Linked DNA regions of Homo sapiens. The protein of the gene in region 1 interacts with the protein of each later gene in a pairwise test. Each region holds a gene or a part of one and is shown in the gene's direction. Other genes may lie near its edges. The genes, in order: PAN3 and SVIL.

Region 1 (3,823 bases):
GCAAATCAATGATAAACCCTTATTTCAGATGAGGTAGTTATTTAACAGCTAGATCTGTGGATGGTGGAGTGACACATAATGATAAGGGGCCTGCAGTATGGCTCTTATGCTCAGGAGATAGAGTAGTCAGACCCAAGAGAGCCATGATTGTAGATGACGAAAGAGCTACCAAAGGACTGGCGATGAAGTGAGGGAAGAATCGTGAAACAAATGGGAAGAGGTGGCCCCAGAGGAAACATGAATATTAAGACCAAAAGAGGAAGAACATGGCCAGAAAGAAAGATTTCTTATCAGAGTCAATTAGTAATGTTCCAGGAGAGGGAGAAGGAACAGGAGTCAGGGGGCGAGAATGAATGGGGAAGGAGAGGGAAGGATTCCATGTTACGTAAATTGTACCTTTTTTAGCTTCATTACTTCATCCATATTCAAAAATTATTTTATTTACCCTAGAAAAATAAGTAGTAGATGAAGTGAGTGAGAAAGTCAGAGTCCACTAAAACAGGGGTCCTCAATCCTTGGACCAGAGACCAGTGTTAGGAACCAGGCCGCACAGCAGGAGGTGAGCAGTGGGCGAGTAAGTGAAGTTTCATCCGTATTTACACCCACTCCCCATTGCTCTCATTACCATCTGAGCTCCTCCTCCTGTCAGATCAGCAGAGGCATTAGATTCCATAGGAACATGAACCCTATTGTAAACTATAAATATATTGTAAAATACATATATATTTTATATATATGTAAAGTTATTAAATTATATAAATATATATTATATATATTATATATAATTAATATATATTATATATAAATTATATATAATATATAATTAATTATATATTATATATAAATTATATATAATATATAATTAATATATAAAATTATATAAATATATATATTTTTTGAGATGGATGTTCGCTATTTCACCCAGGCTGGAGGGCAGTGGTTCAGTCTTTGTTCACTGCAGCCTCCGCCTCCTGGGTTCAAGCATTCCTCTCACCTCAGCCTCTAGTAGCTGGGACTACAGACGCACACCACCATGCCTGGCTAACTTTTGTATCTTTAATAGAGATGAGGTTTCACCCAGTTGATCAGTTGGCCAGGCTGATCTCAAATTCTTGACCTCAAATGATCCGCCCACCTTGGCCTCTGAAGTGCCGGGATTACAGGCGTGAGCCACCATGCCCAGCCTAAACTATGCTATCTTATGTAAGGAAACCAACACAAGAAAAAAGAGATATTATTCTCCCTGCAGACACAGGCTAAAGGAAACCTTACAAGTATCACAAAACTGCTTCCTAGTTGAGATGCAGAGCAGAGCAGTCATGTTAGGGCAGCGCAAATCAGCTGAATTCGTTTTTAAAAGAGAAAAAAGGTTTCATTGTTTAAAATGAAAGAATGAAAAAATAGAAAAGATATTTAAAACTGAACTTTGATTTTGTATCATGGACCAGTGAAGGAGAGGCAGAGAAAAGAGTGATAAAGAGAACAAAGGGTGGTGGGATGAGTCCAGTTGAAAGAATGAAAGACAAGAAGCTGGAAGCTGATTTAGTAACTTTATTGTAGTTTGCTTGGAAGGTAAATGTATTATTGTATCCTTCTGTTCACTTAAACTGCTGACCTAGAGTAGGTTTGAATAACACTTTGTTTAGTTTGGCCACAAAATGCCTGTGAAAGGGGAAATTCTTTGGGCAGCCAGGGCAATATCACTTCCTTATCTCCCAGTACCCAAACACCTTTAGTTTCTCCTTCCTTCCTTCCAGTTGCTTTCAAAAAGTGGCGATGAACTGCTTGTATAGTTGCCATTTAGTATCCAAGGGGGATTGATTCCCGGACGCCCACAGATAGCAAAATTCCTGGGTGCTCAAGTCCCTGATATAGAATGACATAGTATTTGCATAGATCTTATACACATCCTCCTGTATACTTTAAATTATCTCTAGATTACTTATAATACCTAATGCAGTATAAGTGCTTTGTGAATAGTTGTTATAATGTATTTTTAATTTGTATTACTTCTCATTTGTTGTATTGTCATTTTTTTCCCCTGAATATTTCCTACCCATGGTTGGTCGAATCCTTGAATACAGAACCCAGGGATACAGAAGGCTGACTATGTGACATTTCTTCCAAAGAGCTACTTTTATCTTCTCAATGGAGCTTAAATTTTACTGTATCTGAAGAAATGTTTTCTTTCTCATTAGATTTTTTTTTTTTTTGAGACAGAGTCTTCCCCTGTCCCCCAGGCTGGAGTGCAGTGGCACGATCTCGGCTCACTGCAGCCTCCACTTCCCAGTTTCAAGCGATTCTCCTGCCTCAGTCTCCTGAGTAGCTGGGATTATAGGTGCCTGCCACCAAGCCTGGCTAATTTGTGTTTTTTTTGTTGTTTTTTTTTTTGAGATGGAGTCTCGGCTCTGTCACCCCAGCTGGAATGCGTTAGTTCAATCTTGGTGCACTGCAACCTCCACCTCCGGGTTCAAATGATTCTCCTGCCTCAACCTCCCGAGTAACTGGGAGTACAGGTGCATGCCACCACACCCGGCTAATTTTTTGTATTTTTAGTAGAGACAGGTTTCACCATGTTAGCCAGGATAATTTTTGTATTTTTAGTAGAGATGGAGTTTTACCATGTTGGCCAGGCTGGCTCATTAGATTTTTAATTGATTACTGAAATATTATGTTTATTTTTATTTTTTTAATTTTTTATTTTATTTATTTATTTATTTATTGAGACGGGGTTTCATTCTTGTTGCCTAGGCTGGAGTACAATGGCACAATCTCCACTCACCACAACCTCTGCCTCCCTGGTTCAAGTGATTCTCCTGCCTCAGCCTCCTGAGTAGCTGGGATTACAGGCTTGCGCCACCATGCCCCACTAATTTTGTATTTTCAGTAGAGACCAGGTTTCTCCATTTTGGTCAGGCTGGTCTCGAACTCCCAACCTCAGGTGATCTGCCCACCTCAGCCTCCCAGAGTGCTGGGATTACAGTTGTGAGCCACTGCGCCTGGCCGAAATATTATTTTTAATATGAATTCTTTCAGAAAGTATTCTCTAACAGCTATTCTCTGAGGTTTTTACTTCAATATTATTTAAAGATTTAAAATGTATTAAAATTTATTGCTATCATGTAAAGATTAAAATTTTATCAAAACAATAATAAAGCTTATTGATTATGAAAAATTAGTCAGGCTGGGTGTGGTGGCTCACACCTGTAATCCCAGCACTTTGGGAGGCCGAGGCAGGTGGATCACCTGAGGTCAGGAGTTCAAGACCAGCCTGGCCAACATGGTGAAACCCTGTCTCTACAAAAATACAAAAATTAGCTGGGCATGATGGTGGGTACCTGTAATCCCAGCTACGTGAGGCTGAGGCAGGAGAATCACTTGAACCCGGGAGGCAGAGCTTGTAGTGAGCCGAGATTGCGCCACTGAACTCCAGCCTGGGCAACAGAGCAAGACTCCATCTGAAAAAAAGAAAGAAAAATGAGTGATTACATTTACCCCCTTCCTACCTTTTTAGGTGTTTCCAAACTATCATATTTATCCTCCAACTGCACCTCACGTTGCTTATATGCAACCGAAAGCAAACGCACCTTCCTTCTTCATGGCTGATGAACTCCGACAGGTATGCTTTCAGAATTCATAGTAGGAATACTTAATGTCTCCTGTGCTTTAGTGAACAGGGGAAAGAACAGAGCTCTTTTCAAATCATATTATTTAATCAAATATGCTCTAGTAAAGCACATCGAATTTAGAAGTTTTAATTGGTATTTTTTTTAAGGAAACCTGTCTTTTAAAAAAATTTCAAATAAATTATGTGGCAGGATAT
Region 2 (3,823 bases), on another chromosome or scaffold:
GTGAATGTCTAGTTGAGTGCTTTAAAAGAGAGGTGATTGTTGTATCTTGAACTAAATAAAAAGCATAAATAATCGTGAGTGCTCTTACATTTTCAGACGACAATGAAATTACAGCGTTTGGTCAATAGGTGTCTGTATGCCAGGAACCTTCCCCCACAGTCCGTGTTCTGGGCGTGTACATGAGGAAAGCTTACTGATTCAAGGGACCAGGCTCATTATGCCCTAATGCATGCTGGTGGTGGATATTAACGCATTTTTCTGTGGCTTCTGGGTATTTATTTAGTCAGAAGGGACCCATTCTCCCCCAGGATAGCATCTGACCCCTGCCAGCTTTTACAGGGGTAGAGTTAGTTTTGCACCTCCTGGGCATACATATGCAAATTGGAAACTCAACTCAGGATCATCTGACAAGTAGTTGACATTAGACACCAAAATGCTTTTTCACAAGTTATTCTCTCTCAGGTCAGTTTCCATTCACTGGTAATCTGTGATCTACGCATGCTTTCCTCCTGTGAGGCCGTTACTGCACTTTGCAACTTAAATCCTTTTTCTTTCTTAAAGAGTTAAAGTTAGAGAAAAATTGGTGAAAGAGGAAAGTGCTCGAAACAGCCCTGAACTCGCCTCAGAGTCCGTAACTCAGAGGAGACACCAGCCAGCGCCAGTCCATTACGTGTCATTTCAGTCTGAGCACTCAGCCTTTGATAGGGTCCCCAGCAAGGCAGCAGGCTCTACACGACAGCCAATCCGTGGCTATGTCCAACCCGCAGATACCGGTCACACCGCCAAGCTAGTGACGCCAGAAACCCCAGAAAATGCATCTGAGTGTAGCTGGGTAGCATCAGCCACCCAGAATGTCCCCAAACCTCCCAGCTTGACGGTTCTAGAAGGTGACGGAAGGGATAGCCCAGTTCTCCATGTCTGCGAGTCAAAAGCAGAAGAAGAAGAAGGGGAAGGAGAAGGAGAAGAAAAAGAAGAAGATGTGTGCTTCACTGAAGCTCTCGAGCAAAGCAAGAAAACCCTACTGGCTTTGGAGGGTGATGGGCTAGTGAGAAGCCCAGAAGATCCCTCTAGAAATGAGGACTTTGGTAAGCCTGCTGTGAGCACAGTCACCTTAGAGCATCAGAAGGAACTGGAAAACGTGGCACAACCCCCTCAAGCTCCGCACCAGCCCACTGAGAGGACAGGCAGGAGCGAGATGGTTCTCTACATTCAAAGTGAGCCTGTGTCCCAAGACGCCAAACCAACTGGTCACAACAGGGAAGCCTCGAAAAAGCGCAAGGTCCGTACCCGCTCTCTGTCAGATTTCACAGGCCCCCCTCAGCTCCAGGCCTTGAAGTATAAGGACCCAGCTTCCAGGAGAGAGCTGGAGCTGCCCAGCTCCAAGACCGAAGGGCCTTATGGGGAGATCAGCATGCTGGACACAAAAGTCTCTGTCGCCCAGCTCCGAAGTGCGTTCCTGGCATCTGCCAACGCCTGCAGGAGACCTGAACTGTAGGTGATGCTTCACACGCCCTCCAGCTGTGTCACTTGCACGTCCCTGGCAGAATGATTCACTCCTCGACCTGTGTTGTGTTCTGCATTGAATCATATTAGCTTAGCTCACAAGTGCGTGCAGGGCGACTATGCGGAAAATGGCTCAAAAACTACCACTCTGCTTCTGCCTACTAATGGGGAACTAGTGGATTGGGTGTCTGGAATGTCTCCTTCCTTACGTGCATGGTAGAGGCATGAAGAGGGGTTTGGTGGTGTCTGTCCCTTGACTCACGGAGATGCATAATCCTTTGCCATCTTCTCTTTCTCTGTCTTCGTTTGCCTTCCTTATACTCTCTGCCCTTTGATTCTCAAAGCAAATCACGGGTGGAGAGGTCGGCTGAAGGACCTGGCTTGCCCACCGGTGTGGAACGGGAGAGAGGGTCCCGGAAACCAAGACGCTATTTTTCTCCTGGTGAAAGTAGAAAAACTTCCGAGAGATTTAGAACCCAACCTATAACTTCAGCAGAACGAAAGGAATCGGATAGGTAGGCATGCGTATGCGCAGTTTCCTCATCCAGGAACGTGGCAATGACACAGGAGTTTTACCACACTGACGGTCTTGACGCTATTTATATAGGATGTTGGCGATTCCATAATTGTTCCATCTAACCTATAAGCGTTATTTATTTGGCTTATTTAAAAGTCTTTTTAAAGAATATTAGCCTTTACAGCGGTATTATGATACATACACAATTTTACATTGCATTCAGATGATAAGAAGTAAGAAACATTATTTTTCTTTATTTAATGGTTTTAATGTTTTTTACCCCTTGTTAAATTAGACTCCAGATTGCATATTCACCAGATTTTACAGTGAAAATAACTGAGGAATTTTATATTCATTTTATAAATGTCCATCTACTTGTTGTATTTGAGTTTTATACTGAAGTGTCATATACTATTGCATAGAAATGGTAAGATTTGTCTGGAAAATTGTCATCAGTGGTGTTTAACAAGTTGTTCTTGTGCCTGGTCTCTCTCCACGGGGTGTGTACTTGGCTGGGATTGTGTGCACACACGCTCCACAGTGTTGCTTCACAACTGTATGTGTGTTTTCACAACTAGAATTGCTACCAGGAGGTTATTTCTTAAAAGAATTTAATTGCATTTTTATTTTTACTTTCAGTATGATGTTTTATTTCGATCTTCTGCTCCCACCTGCTAATGTATTATTGTTATTTGCTAATGTCTTTCCTAGGTGCACTTCACATTCAGAAACGCCAACTGTCGATGGCAAGTACCTGTTTCCCTTTTTTTTCTTCTTTATTATCTCATCTAGACTGGATTTAATAATAAGGTTTTTGGCTTTTTGAGAGAGTAAGATGATGGAGCATAACAGTGTCTCCCTTTGCTGCAGGTTTTCGTTCTGTGGATATGATAAAATCTAGTTGAAATTTTCAGACAAGCTTTCCCTTCTTTTTGAGAGCAGTTAGAGAATCATACAGTGACCAATGTAAAAACAACTAATTCAAACCAAAGGAGCAGGTTCTTCTTGTTGTTGCTGCTGCTACTATTTAAAACTAAAAGAAATTCCCCCCATAAAATATATTCATGAAATCTCGATCAGACAAACGTTAGAGTAGAAATCCCTGGACAGAGTTTGCTTTGGTTTGGCTGGGTTGAATTGCAAGGGAAATTAGTACCTTTTCACTGAGCAGAAAGAATGGGCTCCCTGCAAGGGGAAACTACCACCAATTATTATTTTAGTGCACCTATTGTTGTATTCAAAGATTTCCAGGTCAGCCCTGAAAGACTTTTTGGAGACCGAACTTAACCTTCTCTAATGATGTCCAGTTTTTAATTTGTGGCTTTTTGCAGATGAAGAAAAGGTGGATGAACGAGCCAAGCTGAGCGTCGCCGCCAAGAGGTTGCTTTTCAGGGTAAGCTGTGCTGACGTGCTTGAATAGAGATCCCTACTGGGTGCAGTAATCCCAGCTATTTGAGAGGCCAAGGCAGGAGAATCACTTGAGGCCAGGAGTTTGAGACCAGCCTGGGCAACACAGTGAGACCCCCATCTCAAAAAAAATAAAAATTGTAAGCCTTAGGGAGGGGGAATCTTGTGGACCCAGCCTACTTCATGCACCTCTGGGCATGCTAAGGCCCTCCTGCCTCTGGCCCACCTGTTGTTCTCTTCCTAATCTTTGGCTGGTTGTGGCCACCTCATGGACACAGCATGAGTGTACACTTCTGACAACAATACGAGGTGCTCATTAGTGACCCCTCCTGTAGGTCCTGTAGGAGAACAAAGTGAAGAATTTTTACTACCCCCATTTCCTTTCCTTGAATTTCT

The links.
Region 2: the proteins of PAN3 (region 1) and SVIL interact in a two-hybrid assay, tested with the Homo sapiens proteins (one study listed by BioGRID).

What each region holds. Positions count from the first base shown.
Region 1 is NC_000013.11:28,256,933-28,260,755, forward strand, and holds part of PAN3 (PAN2-PAN3 deadenylation complex subunit PAN3), read left to right. Parts: intron 1-3,514; coding exon 3,515-3,619; intron 3,620-3,823. UniProt on the Homo sapiens protein: Regulatory subunit of the poly(A)-nuclease (PAN) deadenylation complex, one of two cytoplasmic mRNA deadenylases involved in general and miRNA-mediated mRNA turnover.
Region 2 is NC_000010.11:29,530,197-29,534,019, reverse strand, and holds part of SVIL (supervillin), read left to right. Parts: intron 1-561; coding exon 562-1,491; intron 1,492-1,847; coding exon 1,848-2,018; intron 2,019-2,731; coding exon 2,732-2,766; intron 2,767-3,351; coding exon 3,352-3,413; intron 3,414-3,823.